7 linked regions of the Homo sapiens genome follow. The protein of the gene in region 1 purifies or fractionates together with the protein of each later gene. This does not show direct contact. Each region holds a gene or a part of one and is shown in the gene's direction. Other genes may lie near its edges. The genes, in order: RBM33, CDK8, ZC3H14, ACIN1, CAAP1, SAFB2 and POLDIP3.

Region 1 (3,500 bases):
TAATAAAACGGATCCTGTTTGGGCCTTCATTGTTAAGGTGGACTTCATGGCCACTGGAAGGTCTGTTTTGGTGTTACCTGAGTGTGACACAGGCCCTGGGGTGTGCGTGTTTCTCTAACTGTCTACACGTGCACATAGGCAGACTTTCTCATAGAATGTTCTTGAAAGGTGATTGGCAAAGTCATGCAGGCCCGCCTTAAAGCGCTGATTAGAACAGTCCAACACAGTCCGACCTCACTCAATACCCACAACCATCGAAAATGGATTCTTAGTACCAGACAATCCCAGTAATGAAGGTTTAGTTTCCTTGAAGGAAACTACAGAAAAGGAAAGAAGCAGAATGAGAAAGGAATGGTACTTAGGTGTTTGGTATGCTGCTCACGTGAAGTCAGCCCACACCAGCCAAACCCTCGTGGAAGATCTGCTGCAACCATTATCTTTGTTCTTGAGTTCATCATGCATTTAAAATGAGATGCAAGAGCATTTAGCATACCATGTAAATATGGACCTTTTAAAATTAAAATACTATTGGAAGTGCTTTCAACTCAGCCACATCTTAGCTATTAGTTCTTTGTGTTGTCTTATCAAAGTTTAATGGATACAGTTCCACAGTTGTTGATGTGTTTGTGTGTATATTCGATTTTTATAAAGATGGTAGTAAGTCAATACATTTATCCTGATCTGTGTATTATTTGTTCACAAATTCAAGAAGCTTAAAGGTCGTAAATATCAGTATCTCATAAGGTAAACCAATAGCTGATTATGTGGAGCCAAGTTACTTCTTTTCTTTTTGCATTATCTTGTTTTGGTTTTGTGCTGTAATAGAAGTTCACTTAGCTACTTTAGATAACCTTGCATTACCACTGGTCTGGCCACGTTTGTTAAATCCTTATACTGATATTCTTCTAAAGAGTAAATCTCATCATTTTTCCAGACAAATTTTGAGGGGTTTCTCTGTTTTGTGGACAGGCAGCAGCCTCCGTAGGCACCCGCACCCTGCCTTGCTGGAGGAGATGGGATGGGGCGGGAGGTGGCTTCACCATAACTATTTTTAATATGGGTCATTCTTAGCATGATTTGTAAAGGTCTCAGGCAAACAGTTGTTGAAGCTTGCTTCTGTGGCATTTCTGAATTGTGGCAGAGCTTAGATCCTGCACCCAGGGGTCTTTTTTTCAAACAGCATCTTGCTCAGTTCTGTGAACAGAAGGCTTTGTTACTGAAGGAGGTGGAAGAGGAGTTTAGGGTGAAAAGGAGGAAGGGATGGACAGACCCAGGTGAGGAGAGGCCTGGGGATTGGGGAAGCTGTCATCTCAGTGTTAATAATCAACTTGCTTCTAACACACTGGCTTATCAGGGGAGGTCATCCAGTCCGGTCGGTGGAGTTGAGAGCCCTTGGGCCAGGGTGTTTGGCGGCACAGGGGCATCCGCTGGATGGCCTGGAGGAGTGGGGGAGGGGAACGTCTTCACTGGGTGGTGATCAGCTGGGACAGTTCAGGTAGGGCAGGTGAGGGACCCCCGAGGCCCTGGAGCCTTGTCCTGGGATGGGTTTGAAGAACTCATCACTCATCACTTGTTTTCTTTTGGCTTTTGTTGTTTTTGTTTTGTTCTGTTTGTTTTGTTTTGTATTTCTTTGTTATTTTATTGGGAAGGTAAGCGGAATGTGCTCATAGACCATCAGACGCTTGTCGAAGGCAGGTCCTAGTCATGTAATTGCACAGGACAAGGAGGTCAGCGTGTGTGATGGCAGCATGCTGTGCCGGCACATCGTGGAGTCCTAGAAACTCTCTAGTCCCTGCGGCTGTTCCCCTCCTCTGCTCTCTCCCTGGAGAGGACTGCCAGCTCTTAAGAAACATTCCTGGTGCGGTGTCTGCAGTGCCCTTTGTGGGTGACTTCAGGCTTCCCGCTTTCGTGGTGCTCTTCCTGGGATTCGTTTTTTTATTACCCTCCCTCCCTACTTGTAGGCCTCAGCTATGGCTTGACGTAATCGCTTTTAGACCCAGGTTGGCTTCCCTTCATTAAGCTATGATCCTCCACCCCATTTTTTTTTTTTTTAATTTGGAGTGGGAGGGAGGGGGGTGGGCGAGAGAAAGCTCGAAAGGTATTATTGGTTTTTCAAAAAATTAGAGGTGACGATTCTACCAGGGAGTTGACTGATAGGAGTGTGTGCAGGGCAGGAAAGGTTCGGAGGCACCCGACTACCACCACTCGGAAAGCCGCTAGTCCAGATCGACTAGGGAGAGGCTTAGATACTTTAGTGTATTTAAAGAGCATTTCAGTTAACTTTTTCAGCTATTTTTAAAGTTTGTGAATGGAGTGTTATTTTGGACATTCTTAAATATGAATTCTCCAAAGGCATTTAGCCTTGACTTAATATTAAATCCTAAGGATTTTATGTAAGGTTTTTTTGCAACCTATTTAATTTTTTTTAAATGCCTAACTTCTGAGGTGCATAAGCCCGTGGTTTGTGTACTGGAACTAAAGCGGAACTCACTGATTCATATTGGATCCCCAGGTATACCTTCTGCTGGTAGCATATGGCTGGAAAAGGCCGTTTGCCTCACACATTGTAACCTGCCTTGGCTAGAAAATGCTTTTAATGTCTCAACTCTCTCTTTTCTGTGTCATGTTTTGGTAGGAAATCTTTAAGATTGGCGGACGGAACAGGTATTTTAGTGAGACACTTCTGAGTACTTGCTTTTTCCTTTGACTTCTAACCAACTAAAAGAGAAGGAGGTCTTCATGTTGATATTTTGCTTGGTTTTATTTTACTGATTTTAAAAGGTATATAGAAAAATGTAGGCCTTTAAAAAGAAACAGCATGTAGTTTTTTATTTTAATATGTTCCATAGAGTGGATAGGCAGACAGGTACTATTGTAATGTATTCTGTATTTAATAATTTAATATACTCTAGAAAGTAGACCTCATGCATTCTTTTAGCATGATTTTCTTTTAAACTGCTTTTCATTTTAAGGGCACCCGTGGCGGAAGCTGGTTTTGCAAGGACTGTGTAAGCTGTATGCGTTCTAGCTGTATGCGTTCTGTAGTCTTTTCTTAGGTGGGTAACATTTTCAATAACGCGCGCACAGCACACAGGGGTGCCCTGAGCCGAAGGAGCAAAAAAAGCCACCGCTCGTTTCTATAATCCAGCTTTGCTTTTCACAGGCGTGGGATCCAGGATGGTGTCCTCTGTGAGGACTTGAACTCTGGGGCTTTAATTCCACTGTTTAATTTTCAGGTACCACAGCAGCAAAGCACAGAGTGTGACCTTTTTCATGTCTGAGCTGATTCTGTTTGCTCCACGTGCCTGCTTCTTGCTACTGTTCATTTAGTAATGGGATCACCTCACCATGCCATGCTCTGGGCTCTCCCTCTCTGTCCATTTCTGTTTTGCTTTCCTGGCTAAACCCATCTACCATTCTTAACACTGGTAGCTCCTGTCCCATTCCAAGACTCACTCTCTCAGACCTTCCCATCTCCCTGGCTTTCCATGCTCCTCTCC
Region 2 (3,500 bases), on another chromosome or scaffold:
TTTTGACTTGCATTTATCAAAGATCCGTAGAAACAGCAAAATTTGTAGAGTTTACATATTGGCATGGAAATATTTATGGGTTTCCTGAATTTCAGGACTGTATTTTTGTTTCATCTTGTTTTACTTTTTTGTTTTGTTATTTGGTATTTGAAATGATAAAATATGTTCAATATCTGTATTAAAAAGGTACCTTTAGCTCTTACCAGTAGAAACTATAAATGAATTCAGTAGTAGGAATTTTTTTCTGGCAGCACATATAATACTGCCACTATTTGGCATTCAAATATAAATTTTGAACCTTATTTCTATTTAGGGCACTATACAGAATCACATTATATTGAATAATAGCATTTAAGTCTTCTCTTAGAACAGTCACAATGTGGGTGAGAGTCATAGTACCCTATGGTGAGTTAGCCTGCTGTTTTGCAACAGAGAGATGGTTTACATGTATCCTATCCCTGGTATTAGATCTCTCCAACTGTATCTCAATCCCTAGTTATATTACAGAACGGTAATCACCAAAAACTGCTCAGAGGTCCAGAATAATGAGAATTTGTTTAAAACACCTAAATTTTGGCTAGTCAAGTACTTAGTAGAAAGTGTTTCTTATTAGGAATATTTCTCAGGTCACTATAAACTCAAGACTAATAGAGATAATACCTGGGACTTTTAATTCTACATTCCCTTGTAAGGGTGTTAATTATCAGTAAATGCAGAATAACTACACAGATACTGCCTTTCTCCAAAATTGGTCACCAGTGTGGAGAAGACTTCTGTTGTGATGGGAATTTTATTTATTCAGTAAATATTTATTGAGTACCTGCCATGTGCCAGGCACTGTCTTAAGTAAAAAGTTATTGATGATGTAACAGACATGATTTTTGCCCCCTTGGAGTTTGCATTGTACTGCTATATGTAGAATGTTTAAAAAGTAGGTATGGTTTTGAGTAGAGACAGAAGAATTCTGTTTTCTTCCTGCTTCTGAATGTGTCCACCATTTCTGAGCCCACGGGAAAGGCATAGCTTCTGTGAGGGAGTAGATGTGGTGAAGATGTCTATCAGTGACTCTTAATATGTGGTTCAGAGGTTAGGGTGGTTTATAAGGAAGCTTGGAAAGCAGGCAGCAGAGGTTAGATTTGATAGCTAAAGAATGAGAATCCATCAGTTCTTGAGTACTAGAGACATGCTTTATGTTGCATTTTAGAAAGATTTAGTAAGATGGTGGTAGGTAAAAATCTGTTAAAAAGAGCTAACTGAAATCAGAAACCAGCTGTAGCAGTGCTGCAGACAGAAAGTAGAGTGAAGATAAGGATGGAGAAAAAAGGGCAGATGGAAATGTTTTATAGGAAGTGTATAAGCAAGGGAAAACTAAAGATTATCTTAAAATTTCTAGCATGAGAAATTGATAAAACACAGAAATTGGAGCAAGGAAAATAGTTAAGGAGAAAATTCCATTTAGGAGTGTAGTGTATGTTTAGTTTACAATATGTGATGTCTTTGGAGGATAGTTACCAAATATTTTTACAAGTAAGTTCAAAGAAAAGCAAGCCTCTAAAGGCCATTTAAAAGCTAAAGGTTTTGCGAGGCCGCGGTGGGCGGATCACCTGAGGTTGGGAGTTTGAGACCAGCCTGAACAACATGGAGAAACCCCGTCTCTACCAAAAATACAAAATTAGCTGGGCATGGTGGCTACATGCCTGTAATGTATTACAGGCATGGGATTACATGCCTGTAATCCCAGCTACTCTGGAGGCTGAGGCAGGGGAATCACTTGAACCTGGGAGGCAGAGGTTGGGGTGAGCCGAGATCGCACCATTGCACTCCGGCCTGGGCTGTTAACAAGAGCGAAACTCCGTCTCAAAAAAAAAAAAAAAAGAGCTAAAGGTGCTGTTAAGCTGCCTGTGACAGTCCTTTGCACCTAGTAGACTCTCAGGAAAACCCATTGGCAGATATTGGAGAGAACACATTATGTAGCATGTATTGTTTGAGCAACTTGGATGCCAGCAAAAGTAGCTGAAACGTTTTGTACTTAACGTATTTAGGAGCTGGGGTTGTTTTGGGTAATGTTAACCAGACTAGCCAAGGTACCAGCCCACTTATTAATATACTAATTATATCCTACCCTATTGTGCAAATAGTTATTACCCCTTCTTCCATTGATTGCTTATGTAAAGAAATATATTTAACAAGGTGAAAGGAGGGCTGTATCATAAAAAGAAGTATAGTTTAAAGCCACTGAGGGGAAGATCTTAGATTTCTCATTGAAGAAATTGATTGCTGACTTAACCAAGAAATTTGGTAGAAAAGGGGAAATAAGCAGTTTTACTAATAGAAAGAGGACATTTAATAAGATAAATAGAAATATGTATAACTTATTCTTCTCTAGTGACAGAAATTGAGGCAGCTTATAGTAAAACATACAGAAAGTTTGCAGTTTAAAATTTAAAATATAAACAGATATATAAAGTTATATAAGGGATAAGGAATTATGTTTACACTTCAAGATATTTACTGTTGCTGAACATTTATTTGAAGACAGCTTTTTTGTGTGGAGGTTGAACGGATAGGAAATGTAATGAACGTGGTAATAACCTTTTTAAAAATTCTCAAGAATAGGAACTTAGGCAACATAAAAATTTATCAATGTATTTCACAGATAAAGATTGGGAAGATATAAAAAAGATGCCTGAACATTCAACATTAATGAAAGATTTCAGAAGAAATACGTAAGTTGGAAAAAAAGAGACTCCTTGTTGATTTTTGCTTTACCAGAATACTCAGTGTAAGACTGAATATTCAACATAATAAAATACTCAATATAAGATTACTCTAATAAATAATTTTACTTATTTACTCTAATAAATATTTTTCATGATGACAGTCTTTATTTCTTAAGATGCTTAAATGATTATATACAAAAGTGACTAATATTAGCAGCTGATTTGGATATAAAACAAATTCATGTCTTTCCATATTGACTACTTTTTGGAAGCTAGACATTAGTGAGAAGTATCACAGCTGAATAAATAAGAATCTAAATAAATAAACTTTGGTAATAGCCACTTGCTCACCAATCTAGGTTACAGTAATTTTAAGCAGGTTTTAACAGAGAAGAATGGATATTTCACCTGTTTACAATGCAAAGCCAGGGATTGGGAGAGTTTAGTTTGTATACCTATGACAAAAGTATTTTACACTTATTGGTAAGGCTGAATTAAACTTTTGACCCAGATGTTATTTAAAATAATTGTTAAAATATAATTCATGTGAAAAAAAAAGCTGTTTAGTGTCTGTTATTCATGAAATTGTCTTACATTTAATCATCGGTATCCTTTCAAAAGTGACCATTGTGGATATTGAATGAAATAGAAAACTGATTTAATTCTACTCATTTTATGCTCATAGTGTTTTCAATATATATTTTATATCGGTTATGATCAAAATAATTCTCATCAGAAGGACTTTAGCCAATGTACAATTAACCTCAAGTCTAATATAGC
Region 3 (3,500 bases), on another chromosome or scaffold:
GGCTAAAAATCGGCAGTTCTTGATACCAAATAATATATGAAGTAACTAAACACATATTCCAAGGCTGGGCACAGTGGCTCACACCTGTAATCCCAGGACTTTGGGAGGCCGAGGCGGGTGGATCACGAGGTCAGGAGATTGAGACCATCCTGGCTAACACGGTGAAACCCCGTCTCTACTAAAAATACAAAAAATTAGCCAGGCATGGTGGCAGGCGCCTGTAGTCCCAGCTACTCGGGAGGCTGAGGCAGGAGAATGGCGTGAACCTGGGAGGCGGAGCTTGCACTGAGCCAAGATCGTGCCACTGCACTCCAGCCTGGGCAACAGAGCGAGACTCCGTCTCAACCAAAAAAGAAAAAACAAAAAACAAAAAAAACACATATTCCAAATTTATTTTATTTTATTTTACTTTTTGAGAAGGAGTTTCACTCTTGTTGCCCAGGCTGGAGTGTGATGGCGCGATCTCAACTCACTGCAACCTCCACCTCCTGGGTTCAAGCGATTCTCCTGCTTCAGCCTCCCGAGTAGCTGGTATTACCCGCCACCATGCCTGGCTAATTTTTTGTATTTTTAGCAAAGACAGGGTTTCACCGTGTTGGCCAGGCTGGTCTTGAAATCCTGGCCCTGTGATCCACCCACCTTGATCTTGGCTCACTGCAACCTGTGCTTCCCAGGTTCAAGTGATTCTTCTGATTCAGCCTCCTGAATAGCTGGGATTACAGGTGTGTACTACCACGACCAGCTAATTTTTGTATTTTTAGTAGAGATGGTGTTTCACCATGTTGGACCAGGCTGGTCTTGAACTCCTGACCTCAGGTGATCTGCCCTCCTTGGCCTCCCAAAGTGTTGGGATTACAGGCATGTACCATGGCGCCTGGCCCCAAGTTTATTTTTAAATTGTTTTATCTGCTGTTTCTCATGCTATACCAGATTTTCTTCCCCATGGCTTGCTCCTAGAGTTCTTTTGTATCACATCTGTATACCTTTTTGGGATTTCCAGCATTTGAGATATTAATCTTAAATTAATTTGGGGGGTTTCAATCAATTTTAGATTGTTCATGGTAATTGCTAGTGAGCAACCAATTAACTCTGTTTTATTAGTTTCCTCAATAGCACTATATGCAGCTGTTGATAAAATAAATGTAAAGTTCTAATTTTTGTTTTAGCTAAAGGTTGACTGTTAGGGATAATATTTATATTTATAGTATTTATTTATTTATTTATTTTGATACGGTGTCTCACTCTGTCGCCCAGGCTGGAGTGCAGTGGCATGATCTTGGCTCCCTACATCCTCCACCTCCCGGGTTCAAGTGAGTCTTCTGCCTCAGCCTCCCGAGTAGCTCGGACTACAGGCACATGCCGCCACGCTCAGCTAATTTTTGTATTTTTATAGAGACAGGGTTTCACCATATTGGCCAGGCTGGTCTCGAAATCCTGACCTTGTGATCCGCCCACTTCGGCCTTCCAAAGTGCTAGGATTACAGATGTGAGCCACCACACCCAGCCTCATATTTATATTTTTACATAAAACCAAGAAATACTCTGTGAATTTCTCATATTACTGTGTACTGTTTTTTTCTTAAAATGGAAACATTTTGTGGTAGAACTCTTGTTATTTTCTGAGATTAGGTAAGCATAAATTTTATCTGATTGCAGGATGAAAACTTTCGGAAGAGAAAGTTGCCTGTGGTAAGTTCAGTTGTTAAAGTAAAAAAATTCAATCATGATGGAGAAGAGGAGGAAGAAGATGATGATTACGGGTCTCGAACAGGAAGCATCTCCAGCAGTGTGTCTGTGCCTGCAAAGCCTGAAAGGAGGTACCTTGAACATGGCTGTAAATTAATCTTTAACTGCCTTGGTGGAGTCTTCCTGATTTATTGAAGAGAATAATCACGAAAATAATTTTTGTTTGTTTTTTGAGACGGAGTCTCGCTCTGTCAACCAGGCTGGAGTGCAGTGCCACGATCTCGGCTCACTGCAACCTCTGCCTCCCAGGTTCAAGTGATTCTCCTGATTGAGCCTCCTGAATAGCTGGGATTATAGGTGTGCACTACCATGACCAGCTAATTTTTGTATTTTTAGTAGAGATGGTGTTTCACCATGTTGGACCAGGCTGGTCTCGAACTCCTGACCTCAGGTGATCTGCCCTCCTCAGCTTCCCAAAGTGTTGGGATTACAGGCATGAGCCACCGCACCTGACATAAATATTTAATGTAATACCGTGTAAGACTTTTCCATTGGGTTTTGAGAAACACGTTAATGAGAGAAATTGCTTAACATTGGAGAGGATTGCAGAGAATATTGACTAATATGGTGGGGTGAGGAGGAACAACATCAATTAAGATTCAGATTTATTATTTAAAAAAACTAAAAGGGGCCTAGGCATGGTGGCTCATGCCTGTACCTAGCACTTTGGGAGGCTGAGGCAGGAGGATTGCTTGAGACCAGGAGTTCGAGACCAGCCTGGGCGATGTAATGAGTCTTTGTCTCTTAAAAAAAATTAAAATAAATTAGTTGGTCATTGTGGCAGGCACCTGTAGTCCTGGACTGGAGAGGTGGATGTGGAAGCATTGCTTGAGCCTAGAAGTTTAAGGCTGCAGTGACATCACACTCCATCCTGGGTGAGAGAGTAAGAGTCTGTCTAAAAAAAAAAATAAGGTTCCAGTGTAGTTGGCATTTTCTAAAAACTGCAGCTAGTCTGTTTAAAACCTAGAGAAGGTTGTGGTAAAGGCATAATAGATGGCTGGCCTGTGAGGAACTGAAATTTAAAGTTTAATAAAAATACCTTTCTTAACTCTTTTAGACCTTCTCTTCCACCTTCTAAACAAGCTAACAAGAATCTGATTTTGAAGGCTATATCTGAAGCTCAAGAATCCGTAACAAAAACAACTAACTACTCTACAGGTAATTTAAATGTATTATGTTTACACTTGGTAAGACATTTCTGTAATTCTTGAGTAAGGTGAAAATGATTGCTCCTTAAATTGTAAAATAAAGGTGCCTGTCAGATGTCAAGACCAAGATGAGGTTCCCATATAGAAAAATGGCTTTAAAAGGAAATTGACAAGTTTGAGAAACTTCGCCAACTGTTATTGGACTGTAGTTTTTCAAGCACCATATAATGCCTTTTATATCTTTCCAATGTGTGTAAAATATATAGTACGTAAATATTTTGAAGAGAATTTTGATGAAGTAGGACTTTCATATTAGTAGCATTAGATTCAACATTAGATATGAATTTACGATGTGTAAAGGGGAGTACAATTGGACAATGATAGGTATCTGAAGTTATAGAAATTTGTTAAACAGTAGTATATAAACAAGGTTGGTTTCTTCCCTTTTGGCGGAACTCATTAGTAGAATATAAGGCAGAGAATTGACTCATTTGTGATGTTCCTGCTCCAATTCTAGTGGAAGTACTGAATAATTTTATGAGAGAATATAAAAGTATTACGTTTTCAAAACAGGAGATGAATCAGCTGTAAGCTGGTCTTACGGAA
Region 4 (3,500 bases), on another chromosome or scaffold:
CACCATAATCAGTGTTTTTAGGATGTATGGAGGTTTCCAGCTCTTCTGATTAATACAGAATTCCTTCATGGACTACACTTGATTTTAGTTAAAAGGCTGAGCAGCGATAGACTCTTCATGGAAATAGATTTTTTAGGAGACATTTAATGGTGGGAAAGAAATTTTCCAAAAGGCTAGAGAAAATAGAGAGCCTTTGAGTCTAGTTTTAAGGTCCTGTTTTACTCAGTCCCTGTTTTTCTTGATCCTAGTCTTAGACCCAGAAAGACATTTCTAGAAATCTTTTAGTAAGAAAATACTGGCCAATACTTTGGAATTATTAAGTTCCTTAGGGACCTCTTTTCTCCTGAAATACGAGAGTAGTAGACCCTCAGCTGATCCACTTTGCTCCCTGCGCCCTTTCCCCCTTGATTTTAAAGCCGAGAGGAAAGAGAAAGCTCTTCTAAAATTGTCGGTATTTCTTCTCACATAAAACAAAAAAAAATTTATTGAATTCCTACTGCATACATATCTCTGTGAGAGTATATTGGGAGTTAGCACAGCATAAAGTCTGTTAGGAAGAGAGAACAATTACACATAAATCGAACAACAGAAGATAGTATGTGACAATGATACAGACATAGGGAACCAAAAGAGTGGAAGAGCTCTGAGGACTACAGTGATTAGAGAAAGCCTCATAAGGAGATACAGGATTTGAGCTGAGCCTTAGAAATGGTTTGGCAGAGAGGATACAAGAAGATATTTTTAGGAAGGAACAAAGTCAGAGAGATAGGAATGAAAATGGTATTTTTAAAGGAGAGGTAGTAGACTAATCTAGCCAGAGTAGAGTATTTCACATTCAAGAATAGTCAGCAAAACAATTTAAAAGGTAGATGAGGGTGATACACAGAGGGCTTTAAATGCCAGGCCAGTAAGTATGAGGGTTTTTTTTTTAGTTCTATAGGTAATGGGGGAACCATTGAAAATTCTTAATAGGACCATGATTTGATAAGGACCTCTCTTTAAAAAGAGAGGCTGTCAGTTCTTAATATAATTCGAAATGAAAATGAGAAATGATTTCTGAAATAGATTTCAAAAGCAAAGATTTAGAGTAAGGGTAGCCAATCTTTTCAGTGCTTTATGTCATCAGTAAGACCCTGCCCATGGCTAATGATTGATGGAGGAAAAAAAAAACCCCAGACGTTAAAAAAAAAAAAAGGTGAAAAATAAATTGGAAAATATGAATGTGGTAAATTGTAGAGTACTGCTCATAATTGCCGTAAATGCTCTTCAGTGTCCTTTATGCCATAAACTTTTCTACCTCTGATCTTGGCTTAGATAAGAATCCCATTATAGATGTTGTACAAAATTTAGTTAAGGTCCTGAATGGAGTGGCCATTTGGAATTCTATCAGTGCTTAGTTGAATCAGCATTAACCCTAGTGTTTGTCCAGAAATCAGATTCTTCCAGGTATAGAATCTCAGTCTGCCATATGCCAGTATGCCATTGCAATGGCAGCTTATTTGTTGGCTTTGAATGTTTTGGGGTTCTCTCTTGAATAACAATTTTTGATTAAGTTTCCTACTAACATTTTTCTAAACGCTACTGGCACCTGAGGGAGATTTTTTATTTGTTTTAATATTACTATGTTTAAGAATATGGATTCCTGGCCCCTACCCAAAGAATCTCAAGGAATGGGAGTCCTGGGGCTCTACATTTTTTAAAAAGTCCCTGAGTGGTTCTGTTGACCAATTCATTTTATGAATGACTAACTGAAGGAAGAGTTTTTCAGTGTTATAATTTATCAAGATCTTTGGTTTATATTCCAGCATCCTCCTGTTTATATGCTATTGGCAAAATTCCAAATAGGAAGGAAGAATTGGTTTGTCCAGGTGTGGTGTCTCACACCTGTAATCCTAGCACTATGGGAGGCTGAGGTGGGAGGATCTCCCAGGAGATTGGCCTGAGCAACATAGTGAGTCCTATCTGTACAAAAAAATAGAAAACATTAGCTGACTGTGATGGCACATGCCTGTAGTCCCAGCTACTCGGGAGGCTGAGGTGGGAAGATTGCTTGGGCCCTAGCAGTCAAGGTGGCAGACAACAGAGTGAAACCATGTCTCAAAGAAATAATTGGTTTATAAAATCCTGTCTGACTTTCCCTCTTATGTCTCCATCACTTTCTTCAGATATTTCTAAGGTGTTAGGACTCATTATCCACCTACCATAGTCATAAATTGTCTGAATTTCCTTCTATATCATGACTGTGTGTACAGAAATTCTTACCGTCCTTAATTTTTTCAAAAAGAGCTCAAACTAAGAAAATACATTTTTAAATGCATATTCAGAATATTGATTCTTTAACAAAGGTGATTTTAGCCAGCCTTTGGCTTATAGAGTATGCCCCTCATTCCGTTTTCTCCATATTAAAACCTGGATGCGGAAATTCTAGAGAAATGCTAGGTAACTTACTTACAGGTCTAACATGAGTCAGATTTAGGTTTGGCATTGTTTCCAGGTCTGTATTCTCTTCATTCCTGCTTCTTATTCACACCTAAGGTTACCTTTTAGCCACAGGCTTTTCTTCGATCTCTGGCTTCCTTACTTTGGTCCCACAAATCCTACCCAGGAATTTGTTTTCTAGGATGAAGAACTATTTCCTCTATAACCCTTAAACATTCTGCACTTTAATATATCCTGCATTGTCTAGCAACTGCCTTTTCCTTTCTGTGAAGCCTTCTGGCTTTGGACTCTTGGAAATCTAATATTTACCCTGACTTGTTTTTCGAATCCTGAAATGTATTTATTAGCCTGTTATCAGTATCAGCTCCACCCTTAGCTAAAGCGCTCACTGTCTACACGTGTTACTAACATCTGGCCTAAGACATTCATTGTGGCCATGTTCTTATAATAGAAGATATCACCTTTTTCAGAAGTTTGTCTGCATCACATCAGCTCTTTCCAAGGAACTAGAGATTCCTCATCTCTTTATATTTTGCATTGCTGACTAATTTCTTGTTTCATGTCTGAGGCGCCTCCAGTTTCTGCTTTTATTGCAAAACAGTGATGACCAGAACTTTCTGAACAGCCCTGTTCATTTCTCCAGATCTCTTTGATGACTTACTACAAGTTCTTCCAGAGGAGTAATCATCCAGAAATCCTATCACTGCAGTTTTACAGTATCAAAAATAACATTATAATTCAATAAATAGCATATAATTCACAGTAGGTAGATAAAGAGGCTGTTTTGCTTGTACATACTAATTTTAAAATTGCAACTCAGTTATTTGACTTTGTTGTTGTTGTTCTTGTTGTTGTTGTTTTTTGAGATGGAGTCTCGCTCTGTCGCCCAGGCTGGAGTGCAGTGGCGCGATCTCTGCTCACTGCAAGCTCTGCCTTCCAGGTTCACGCCGTTCTCCTGCCTCAGCATCCCAAGTAGCTGGGACTGCAGGCACCCGCCCCCACACCCGACTAATTTTTTTTTTTGTATTTTTAGTAGAGACGGGGTTTCACCATGGTCTTAA
Region 5 (3,500 bases), on another chromosome or scaffold:
TCACCACAACCTCCGCCTCCCAGGTTCAAGTGATTCTCTTGCCTCAGCCTCCCGAGTAGCTGGGATTACAGGCATGTGCCCCTACGCCTGGCCAATTTTGTATTTTTAGTAGAGATGGGATTTCTCCATGTTGGTCAGGCTGGTCTCAAACTCCTGACCCCAGGTGATCTGCCCACCTCAGCCTCCCAAAGTGCTGGGATTACAGGCATGAGCCACTGCACCTGGCCTTATTTTCTTAAATCTATTTTAGTCTCAAGTTAGAATACTTGTATAAAATATTGTTTCTTGAAAGGTTTTATTCAATTTTCTGTAGTTTTTTATGCTATTTGGAAATATTTGTTGCTTTGCGGACATATATAAAATGTTCTTTGCCATCAAATAAAATGATAATCTTATTTTTACAAGTTCTATTTATGGACACAAAAATAATTTTTTGTTTTATTTTCCACTTTAATTTTGGAATGGGGGTGGTTTTTCAATTATAAGCATGTAGGAGGATCACTGAAGGTCAGTAAATCATCATTGATTATAAAACCAATGGAGTATAATTGTTTATGTCCTTCCTGTACAGTCTGTTATCAGAATTTACCATCTGTCAATCTATGTTTTGTAAAGAAGCTTTCCCTACTGTAAGGAAAGCGCTATCAAAGCTTTCTTATATTAGGGAAAGCTAACATTTTGGGGATCATGACTTTTTAAAAAAAAAAACATATTCATGGGTGCAGCACACCAGCATGGCACATGTATACATATGTAACTAACCTGCACATTGTGCACATGTACCCTAAAACTTAAAGTATAATAATAAAATAAAAAGAAAAAAAAGAAAATGCAAGAAAAACACACAAAAAACATATTCAATATTTAAAAGATAAATTAATTAGGAATATAAGTGAGTATTCAAAGTTGCAAATGATGCCTGGAATTGAGTAGTATTCAATGCCAAGAACAAGGTGGTCGAGAACCATAATCTGTGTTTATTTATGTTGTTAGCATCAGTTATAGAAGTTTTATAACAAATGCATTTTTTAAAATTATGGTGAACTAACTTTGTTAATTAAAATCCTCGTCATTAAAACAAATTTTACCTTAGAAAATGGCCTTAGGCATTCTTCTTTAATTTATTGATTTGGAACAAAGTGTTTGAAAAAGCGTATGAAAAGATTGGGATAATTGCAATGCATATGTTGTCCTGCTTGCTGATGATACTTTTTCTTTTTTGTAGTTTATAAAGCAAAGTATTTAAACACCTTCTAGAATGAAATTTTACTGCTTGAATAGTAAGCCATACTGTATCCAGAGGATTTCCAATGTCAGCTTTCATTTTGTAGTGCAGAAGCTTTACTGTGATAAAAATGTTATGACATTTTAATTAGGAAAATAGATCATGGGTACTGCATATGATGGAAGAAATTTCTTAATGTTCCCATGTTCTACTAAATCAGAATGAAAAATACATTTGAATTTACATTACATTAGATCTGCTTTGAAGGTTGAGGAGTCAGGGGAAAAGAGGGTGGCATGGGGATTATGGAATGTGTTTGGGACTCCATAGTGGGAGGTGGGATCAAAGCAGTTTTTAAATTATAAACAGTAAGGAAATTGTGACCCATGGTATTTAGGTTACATGGATCTTTCTCCTTTTTTGGTTACAGGAAAAGGGGAAGATAGTGATGTACTCAGTATAAATGCAGATGCTTATGACAGCGACATAGAAGGCCCATGCAACGAAGAAGCAGCTGCTCCCGAGGCACCAGAAAATACAGTCCAAAGTGAAGCTGGTCAGATAGATGACCTGGAGAAAGACATTGAGAAAAGTGTGAATGAGATTCTAGGACTGGCAGAGTCTAGCCCAAACGAACCCAAAGCAGCCACCCTGGCTGTTCCTCCACCAGAAGATGTTCAACCTTCTGCACAGCAACTGGAGCTGCTAGAACTTGAGATGAGGGCAAGAGCGATTAAAGCCCTAATGAAAGCTGGTGATATAAAAAAGCCAGCCTAGGTATTTAACTTGATTTTGAATTTTAGGTATGTTTGAACAAAGCCACATCATTTAATTTTGTATCTAAAATTTATTTGGGGTCTTATATGTTATTTCTCATGTAACCCTTATTAGGACTCATTTTAGCCCTAAATTACCTGTGGCTGTTTCTTTTTATTTTTTTGACTACTTTTATATTATAAATGTGTGTTACTGTCTTATGAATTCATGGCAATATAGTTGGATAGCCTGGATACTTTGTTAGATGAGTATTTAGCTGTGTCTGCAAATCTTAAAAGCCATTAGCAAAGAGTCGTGGTATTTTTTTCTTTATTTTTAAATGTTTGGGCACCAAACCTAAAAGCAAAAGATTGACGAAGCATGTTTCTCTTAAGGCTACTTGTATTTTACAATACAATATTAAATTATTTAATTTGAGAAATTTAGTTTTGCTTATATGCACTTTTTAAATATATACTATTTTGAAGATTCCTTATGTAAATGCAAATTTCCTAGTTAAAACCGAATAACAGAGATCTGAAATGACTGAGAAAAACTTTTTTATTAAAGGAAGGAATTAATTTAAGGCAATTTTTAACTATGTAGAACTAATTGCCCATGTTTAATTATAGCAGACACGCCATTCTAACAGGTATTTGATACCATTGGATGCATTATTCTAGGTTTTTTCTTTAATAAAAATGGAACAAGTTTTCATTTACATTCCAAGCTGTCAGGAAATGAAGAATATTTTATTATCTAGGATTTTATCTGATGTAGTTGCTTAAAGATCTGATGTGCTATAATTCCATGAATCAGAAATAATAAAATGCTATCATTCTGGATCTGAAGACTTTTGATACTTTTTCAAAAGCAAAATTAATTTCAGGAACCTTTGATAAGTTGTTGTTATAATTAATCTAATTTTGTATAGTTTTTGTAAATAAATTACCATCCTTCCACAATTAGGGATGCTTTTATCCCCCCATCACTAATTGCAGTTGTTTGATACCAAAATAAATTTACGTAGAGATCCTTAACTTAAAATAAATTAATTTTTTCAAAAAACATAAATCTGGAACTGTTGTTTCTATATTTGATAACAAATACAGTATATTTTATTTATAAGCCATGGTCTACTGATACTGTATGAGGACTTTCCTTATATATAAAAGTTGCAGGGATTGTGTTTTATTAGCTGCTTTAATTATGTTAATTTTAGAGAGTTTTTAAATGGAAATAGAGGACATTTATGAAACGCTGGAATTGCAGTTACAAATTCTTTTTGTTGTTGTTGTTCCTGAACATGCCTTGGAATAATTCTACCATTTTTTCCCCCTCCATAAATCTTTCTAATAAAGCATAGAAAAAGCCTATATGATTTTAAATGCTTCTCTTAAGCTGGTAAACAGATTTGAGTTATGAGTTCATTGTTATTGCTTCAAGATGAAAAGACAGTGATATAATTTTTCTATTTCAACTTAAAAGTAATAGTTAATATGCTAAAGTAGTACAGAAT
Region 6 (3,500 bases), on another chromosome or scaffold:
GCCTCCCGGGTTCAAGTGATTCTTGTGCCTCAGCCTCCTGAGTAGCTGCGATTACAGGTGCCCGTCGCCACGCCCAGCTACTTTTTTATATTTTTAGTAGAAACGTGGTTTCACCATCCATGTTGGCCAGGCTGGTCTCGAACTCCTCACCTCAGGTGATCCACCCGCCTGGGCCTCCCAAAGTGCTGGGATTAGAGGCATGAGCCACTGTGCCCGGCCTAGCAGGGATCATTTCTAATGATCTTTGCATCATTAGAAAAACTAAACTTTAGCTGAGTGCTTTGAAGACCTGCCTGAATGTCTAGATTAAAGCTTAGGTGGATTCAAAACTACTTGGAGTTAGTGTTTTGTCAGGAAAGCTTGGATGATAAAGTTCTTCTGTTGCTATAAAAAGGACTTTTGTAGCCTCAGCTCTAGTGAGGGTTAGAAGGGCTTCTGATCCCTTCCCATTCCTTTTTCAGAGAAGTAACCAAGCCCAGAGAGAGCCCAGGTCTTCAGGTGGTGCTCAGGCCCTGCAGGCCTCATCTTCCATCCTGAGCTGGTGATGTTCTCTAGAGGTGTCGGGGCACGTGGCTAATGGATAAAGCACAAGAGCCTTAGGACTTTGTGGTTGCAGTTAGGGCCTGTGATTACATACAACTGTTAGATCAGGAGGAATTCACCAGTTAATTTTCGTTTCAAGCACTATGCAGCAGTGTTCAGTTGAGTCCAAAGTTGGACTCATTCTGGGAACTCACCAGTAACTGCTTCCTTGCAAAAACTGAAGTAGCCAAACTTGTTGAGGGAAAAGTGTCCTCATTATAAATCAGAGTAAGGGTCTTCACCAAGATTAGGAGTCCTAGGCAACATTGTAGGTGGGTTTGGAAAAAATAAAACTTGGATTAAAAATTTAAGTTTTAGATGCCATGTGGGATTAAAGTTGGATTTTCTTACATCTGTGTCCCCAGCAGCGGCAGCTTTTCGTTGGCCAATGCCAGGTGCCGGGGATTGGGGCGTCGCCTGTCTGCGCCACATTAGCTTTTCTGTGATGCTTTTTGGTCAGCATTTCTCCTATTTCCGGCCTATGTGGGCACTGCAGGCTACTATTTAGGGGCCTAGAAATTGGGTGCAATTACCAAACATTTTTAGACAACGTATTTCAAAAGGATATGCTGTGTTTAGATATAATGCGAAGTGGGACAGCTGAGTTTTAGAGTGCCAGCTTTGGAGCTCAACCAAATTCTCGTGTCAAATGCAGATAATAAAACCTGCTAGCGTTGTTAGGCGTCTTAAATGATAGACTGGAAAAAGCTCACGTTGCGAGACATGCAATTAAACTGCATTTCTTGAGTGATTATTGATAATAGTGGTGAGTGAGACTCTTGAGGTGTAGACCCTGCAGGTTTTTTATGTTTAATTTTCTTTCTTTTTTTTTTGAGACGGAGTCTCGCTCTGTTGCCCAGGCTGGAGTACAGTGGTGCAATCTCGGCTCACTGCAAGCTCCGCCTCCCGGCTTCAGGCCATTCTCCTGCCTCAGCCTCCCGAGTAGCTGAGACTACAGGCGCCCGCCACCACGTCCGGCTGTTTTTCTATTTTTAGTAGAGACGGGAAAGTATGTATTTTTTTCTGTTTGATTTTTCTTTATCGGTGTGTATGTTAGAGAGACTCGGTCTTACTCTGTTGCCCAGAGCGGAGGGCAGTGGCATGATCGTGGCAGCCTCAAGCTCTCAGGCTCGGAGCATCCTCCCACCTCATTCTCACCGGTAATTCAGAGTACAGGTACATAACACCATGCCTGGCTAATTTTTGTATTTTTGGTGGAGATGGGGGTCTCACTTTGTTGCCCGAACTTGTCTCTTAATTCCTAGGCTCAAGCGAGCCACCTGCCTTAGCCTCCCAAAATGCTGGGATTACAGGCGTGAACCACTGTGCCTACACTGTGGGCATTTTTTCTGTTTCATTAAATATTCTTTAAAAGCATACATTCTTTAAATATTGTGAGACATTGGATGGTGTCCCACAGGGTTTCTCAGCATTGGCACTGTTGACAATTTGGGCCGAAGAATTCTCTGGGGTTGGGGAGTATCCTGTGCATTGCAGGGTCGTGACCAGCATCACTAGCTACTGATGCTAATGGCGTTCCCCCAGGTCATGACCACTAACAATGTCTCCAGACATTGCCAGCCATTCCCCCCGGTTGTGAACCATATCTGAATGAAAATATGCTGTAATTTGTTTCCCTTTTGGGTGTTTAACAGGTATAATAGGACAGATATCTATGTTTTGAACTCCTTGTCAGATATCCTAAGACTCAAATTCCTGGAACAAAGGGTATGCACATTTGTAAGGTTTTTGATACATATAGAGCCTCAAGTTTCTTCTCAAGGTTTCCACTCTTGAACTCCTCTGGCCTCCTTTTGCAATTCCTAGCAGAATTCTATCAAATAGTTATTTTGTGGTCACAAAACCCAGGATGATTCTCGACTTTATGGCAGCCTTTGCCTTTTTGCCTTGGGGGAAAAAAAAAAGTTCTTGAGCTAAAAAATGACAAAGACCTACTTGAAATGGGTGGAATATAGGGAGAGCCAGCAAATCACTAACTCAATATGTTATTTTATGTTGCAGTTCTTTGGTTACTAGATGGGTATTGCATTTTTTTGTTGGTTTGTTGAAAATGCCTGTTTTTATCCTTTGCTCATTTTTTTGTGATTTTTTTTCTTAGGTTTGGAGTGTTTTTGAAATATTTGGAAACTTTTAGATATTTTGTGGAAAATCAGAGTACTCTGAATCTAAGAGGAATCCTAGATTTTCATCTCCCTGTTGATGGCTTACTTAGAACACCAATTGAGGCCGGGCACCATGGCTCATGCCTGTAATCCCAGCACTTTGGGAGACCGAGGCTGGTGGATCACGAGGTCAGGAGTTTGAGACCAGCCTGGCCAATATGGTGAAACCCCATCTCTACTAAAAATACAAAAATAAGCTGGGCATGGTGATGCACGCCTGTAGTCCCAGCTGCTGAGGAGGCTGAGGCAGGAGAATCGCTTGAACCCAGGAGGTGGAGATTGCAGTGAGCCGAGATTGTGCCGCTGCACTCCAGCCTGGGTGACACAGGGAGACTCCATCTCAAAAAAAAAAAAAAAAAAAAAAAAAAGAAAACAAATTGAGACAAAATTACGTGTGACAGGAGAGGGGAGACTTATAGTTTATCTTGTAATGTGTTCTGTTCTAAGATTGAAATCTATTCTGCATAAACTAATTATGAGGTAGAACTTGAGTGTTATCTGATTGAACAATTATTCTGTAATTAGGACTGAAGATGGAGGAGGAAGGCACAGAAGATAATGGCCTGGAAGACGATTCCAGAGACGGGCAGGTAAGTGATGTCAGGGTAGAGATGACAAGCAGCAGCTCCCTGTCCTGGTCCAGGTGGTCGTTAACGATTCTTCTTCCTCTTTACAGGAGGACATGGAAGCAAGTCTGGAGAACCTGCAGAATATGGGCATGATGGACATGAGTGT
Region 7 (3,500 bases), on another chromosome or scaffold:
TTTTGTCTTTTGTTTTGTTTTTTTTTCCTTTTTCTGGAGAACGGGGTCTCGCTATATTGCCCAGGCAGGTCTCGAACTCCTGGGCTCAAGCTATCCTCCCGCCTCTTAGCCTCCCTGAGAGCTGGGATTACAGGTGTGAGCCACCGCGCCCGGCCTAATTTTTTTAAATAAAAGTTCTATGTGCTTAATATAGAAAACTTGCCAAAAAGTCCCTCAAGTTCCTATTCTCCAAAGCCAGTCACTGTTGAAATTTTGCCATAGTTCCTTACATGTACGCTTCTTTTTTTTTGATACAGGGTTTCACTCTGTCCCCCAGGCTGGAGTGCAGTGGTGCAGTCATGGCTCACTGCAGCCTTGAGTTTCTGGGCTCAAATGATCCTCCCACCTCAGCCTCCTGAGTAGCTGGGATCACAGGTGCATACCACCACATCTGGCTAATTTTTGTAGAGATGGAGTCTTGTCATGTTGCCCAGGCTGGTCTCGAACTCCTGGGTTCAATCGATCCTCCTGCCTCTGCCTCCCAAGTAGCTGGGATTACAAGCATGAGTCACCGCGCCTGGCTAATTTTGTATTTTTAGTAGAGACGGTGTTTCTCCATGTTGGTCAGGCTGATCTCGAACTCCTGACCTCAGGTAATTCGCCCACCTTGGCCTCCCAAAGTGCTGGGATTACAGGCGTGAGCCACTGTGCCCAGCCCCAGTCTGTTTTTTACTTAACTCATAGTTGTGGTTGTGGTTATATATTCTTTTTTTTTTTTTGAGACCGAGTCTCGCTCTGTCACTCAGACTGGAGTGCAGTGGCACGATCTCGGCTCACTGCAAGCTCCGCCTCCCGGGTTCACACCATTCTCCTGCCTCAGCCTCCCGAGTAGCTGGGACTACAGGCGCATGCCACCATGCCCGGCTCATTGTTTGTATTTTTCGTAGAGACGGGGTTTCACCATGTTAGCCAGGATGATCTCGATCTCCTGACCTCGTGATCCGCCCTCCTCGGCCTCCCAAAGTGCTGGGATGACAGGCTTGAGCCACTGAGCCCAGCCATGGTTATATTCTTATCCAATTTTGTATCATTCTTTTTTCACTTTGTAACTCAAGCATTTCTCTGTGACATTTCATATTTACTGTACATGTTTTAGTAACTGCAAAATCTATATAGTTGGCATTCCAGTTTTATTTAAACCATTTTCCTGTCATTTTCACTGTTAGAAATCCTTCTGCTGTGAACATCTTTGTAAATAAAGCTCTTTCTAGGGTTTGGATTTATTTCTGTAGGTCATATTAACAAGGATGGACTTTCCAAGCCAAAGGATATAAAGAAACATTTTAGGGACTCTTGGTACATACTGCCCACTGGGAAAAAGGGACTTCTGATGTATCTGGAAGTTGTAGGACTTTCACTGGGTCCTTGCTGACAGGGAGTTAGCCTGTGAAGACTTGGGCCCCAGTCTTTCCAGGCACCGTCACCCCTGTGCCCACTTCTCCTTGGTCCCTTTGTTTCTCCAGCAGCCATTTCCTTGCCATGCCTGTTCTAGATGTCTGTTGAGGGCCCAGATGCCACATTTGCTTATATTTCTTTATGTTATATTCTCAGAATTTATATGACCTGGATGAAGATGATGATGGTATAGCTTCCGTTCCTACTAAACAGATGAAGTTTGCAGCCTCAGGCGGCTTTCTCCACCACATGGTATGGCATTTCATGTTTTCTTACACTGCGTGTCTGATCAGGCAGGTGGGAGAGGTCGTGTTGAATAGAACCTGTTGTTTTTTTTGTTTTGAGACGACATCTCGCTCTTCTCCCCCAGGCTGCTGGAGTGCAATGGCGCAATCTTGGCTCACTGCAACCTCCGTCTCCTGGGTTCAAGCTATTATCCTGCCTCAGCCTCCCTAGTAGCTGGGATTACAGGCGCCTGCCGCCACGCCCAGCTAATTTTTGTATTTTTAGTAGAGATGAGGTTTCACCATGTTGGCCAGGCTGGTCTCAAACTCCTGACCTCAGGTGATCCGCACGCCTCGGCCTCCCAAGGTGCTGGGATTACAGGCGTAAGCCACTGCGCCCGGCGTGAATAGAGCCTTTCAATGCAGAAATATTTCTTTGTTTGGGCCGTAAGATTTTCAGAGCTGGAACTAGTCCATTCCCTTAGTTTTATAAACGCTGAGACACTGGGGTGCCTTCTGATTTGTTCAAGGTCCCACAGCAAGTGAAGTACAGGGCTGCAGCTCCTAGGTGCTGTGTTTGAGACACTATAGGGAAAGTGTGAGTGATCCCACAGTGGGGAGTCTGTGTTCTTTCCTTGGTGGCTGGCCATTCTGCATGCTTCGTAACCCTTTGTGGTCAGCAGCTCTGGCGCTGCTCTTGGAGTCTGGATTCCGTTGGTTAACATTAGCAGGAATACATCTCACCTGATCTGTGGGCTCTACCAGGTGCAGCCTGCATGCAGGGAAAGCTTGCTAGGCTAGAGTGTTGGTCAGACATCATGCAGAGAAGGAAAGAAAACAACATCTGGGATCATCAGGGAGGTCCATGCTGCTCAGCTCAGTGGTACAGCCAAGTGTCAGACAGGGAGGCCAGTGGGCTGCCTAGGTGGGTCCTTGTGGCAGCCACCTCTTTTGTTTTTCCTTCAGACGCTCAAAGACTCAGTTTTGGTTACTGTCCTGAGTATGTGGACCAGCCTCCTGGTTAGTAATTAAGAGAAATATGGGCCAGGTGCGGTGGCTCACGCCTGTAATCTCAACACTTTGGGAGGCAGAGGCGGGCAGATCACAAGGTCAGGAGATGGAAACCATCCTGGCTAGCACGGTGAAACCACGTCTCTACTAAAAAATACAAAAAAGTTCGGGCGTGGTGGCTCACGCCTGTAATCCCAGCACTTTCGGAGGCCGAGGTGGGTGGATCACGAAGTCAGGAGATCGAGACCATCCTGGCAAACATGGTGAAACCCCGTCTCTACTAAAAATACCAAAAAATTAGCCAGGCGTGGTGGTGTGCGCCTGTAGTCCCAGCTACTCTAGAGGCTGAGGCAGGAGAATGGCACGAACCCAGGAGGTGGAGCTTGCAGTGAGCCAAGAGGCGCCACTGCACTCCAGCCTGGGCGACAGAGCGAGACTCTGTCTCAAAAAAAAAAAAAAAAAAAATATCCGGGGTGTGGTGGCGGGCACCTGCAGTCCCAGCTACTCGGGAGGCTGAGGCAGGAGAATGGTGTGAACCTGGGAGGCAGAGCTTACAGTGAGCCGAGATTGTGCCACTGCACTCCAGCCTGGGCGACAGAGTGAGACTCTGTCTCAAAAAAAAAAGAAACATGAAGCTGGCTCGGCGTGGTGGCTCACGCCTGTAATCCCAGCACTTTGGGAGGCTGAGGTGGGCAGATTACCTGAGGTCAGGAGTTGGAGACCAGCTTGGCAACATGGTGAAATCCCGTCTCTACTAAAAATAAAAAATTAGCTGGGCATGATGGCGCGTGCCTGTAATCCCAGCTGCTCGGGAGGCTGAGGCAGGAGAAT

Evidence for each region.
Region 2: the proteins of RBM33 (region 1) and CDK8 purify together in Homo sapiens (pull-down; one large-scale study listed by IntAct). This does not show direct contact.
Region 3: the proteins of RBM33 (region 1) and ZC3H14 purify together in Homo sapiens (affinity purification with mass spectrometry; one large-scale study listed by BioGRID and IntAct). This does not show direct contact.
Region 4: the proteins of RBM33 (region 1) and ACIN1 purify together in Homo sapiens (affinity purification with mass spectrometry; one large-scale study listed by BioGRID and IntAct). This does not show direct contact.
Region 5: the proteins of RBM33 (region 1) and CAAP1 purify together in Homo sapiens (affinity purification with mass spectrometry; one large-scale study listed by BioGRID and IntAct). This does not show direct contact.
Region 6: the proteins of RBM33 (region 1) and SAFB2 purify together in Homo sapiens (affinity purification with mass spectrometry; one large-scale study listed by BioGRID and IntAct). This does not show direct contact.
Region 7: the proteins of RBM33 (region 1) and POLDIP3 purify together in Homo sapiens (affinity purification with mass spectrometry; one large-scale study listed by BioGRID and IntAct). This does not show direct contact.

The regions. Positions count from the first base shown.
Region 1 is NC_000007.14:155,777,161-155,780,660, forward strand, and holds part of RBM33 (RNA-binding protein 33), read left to right. Parts: 3' UTR 1-3,500. UniProt on the Homo sapiens protein: RNA reader protein, which recognizes and binds specific RNAs, thereby regulating RNA metabolic processes, such as mRNA export, mRNA stability and/or translation.
Region 2 is NC_000013.11:26,393,629-26,397,128, forward strand, and holds part of CDK8 (cyclin-dependent kinase 8), read left to right. Parts: intron 1-2,656; coding exon 2,657-2,726; intron 2,727-3,500.
Region 3 is NC_000014.9:88,573,037-88,576,536, forward strand, and holds part of ZC3H14 (zinc finger CCCH domain-containing protein 14), read left to right. Parts: intron 1-1,656; coding exon 1,657-1,817; intron 1,818-2,803; coding exon 2,804-2,904; intron 2,905-3,500. UniProt on the Homo sapiens protein: RNA-binding protein involved in the biogenesis of circular RNAs (circRNAs), which are produced by back-splicing circularization of pre-mRNAs.
Region 4 is NC_000014.9:23,085,137-23,088,636, reverse strand, and holds part of ACIN1 (apoptotic chromatin condensation inducer in the nucleus), read left to right. Parts: intron 1-3,500.
Region 5 is NC_000009.12:26,840,803-26,844,302, reverse strand, and holds part of CAAP1 (caspase activity and apoptosis inhibitor 1), read left to right. Parts: intron 1-1,655; coding exon 1,656-2,002; 3' UTR 2,003-3,500. UniProt on the Homo sapiens protein: Anti-apoptotic protein that modulates a caspase-10 dependent mitochondrial caspase-3/9 feedback amplification loop.
Region 6 is NC_000019.10:5,616,277-5,619,776, reverse strand, and holds part of SAFB2 (scaffold attachment factor B2), read left to right. Parts: intron 1-3,290; coding exon 3,291-3,355; intron 3,356-3,441; coding exon 3,442-3,500. UniProt on the Homo sapiens protein: Binds to scaffold/matrix attachment region (S/MAR) DNA. Can function as an estrogen receptor corepressor and can also inhibit cell proliferation.
Region 7 is NC_000022.11:42,597,884-42,601,383, reverse strand, and holds part of POLDIP3 (polymerase delta-interacting protein 3), read left to right. Parts: intron 1-1,590; coding exon 1,591-1,686; intron 1,687-3,500. UniProt on the Homo sapiens protein: Is involved in regulation of translation. Is preferentially associated with CBC-bound spliced mRNA-protein complexes during the pioneer round of mRNA translation. Contributes to enhanced translational efficiency of spliced over nonspliced mRNAs.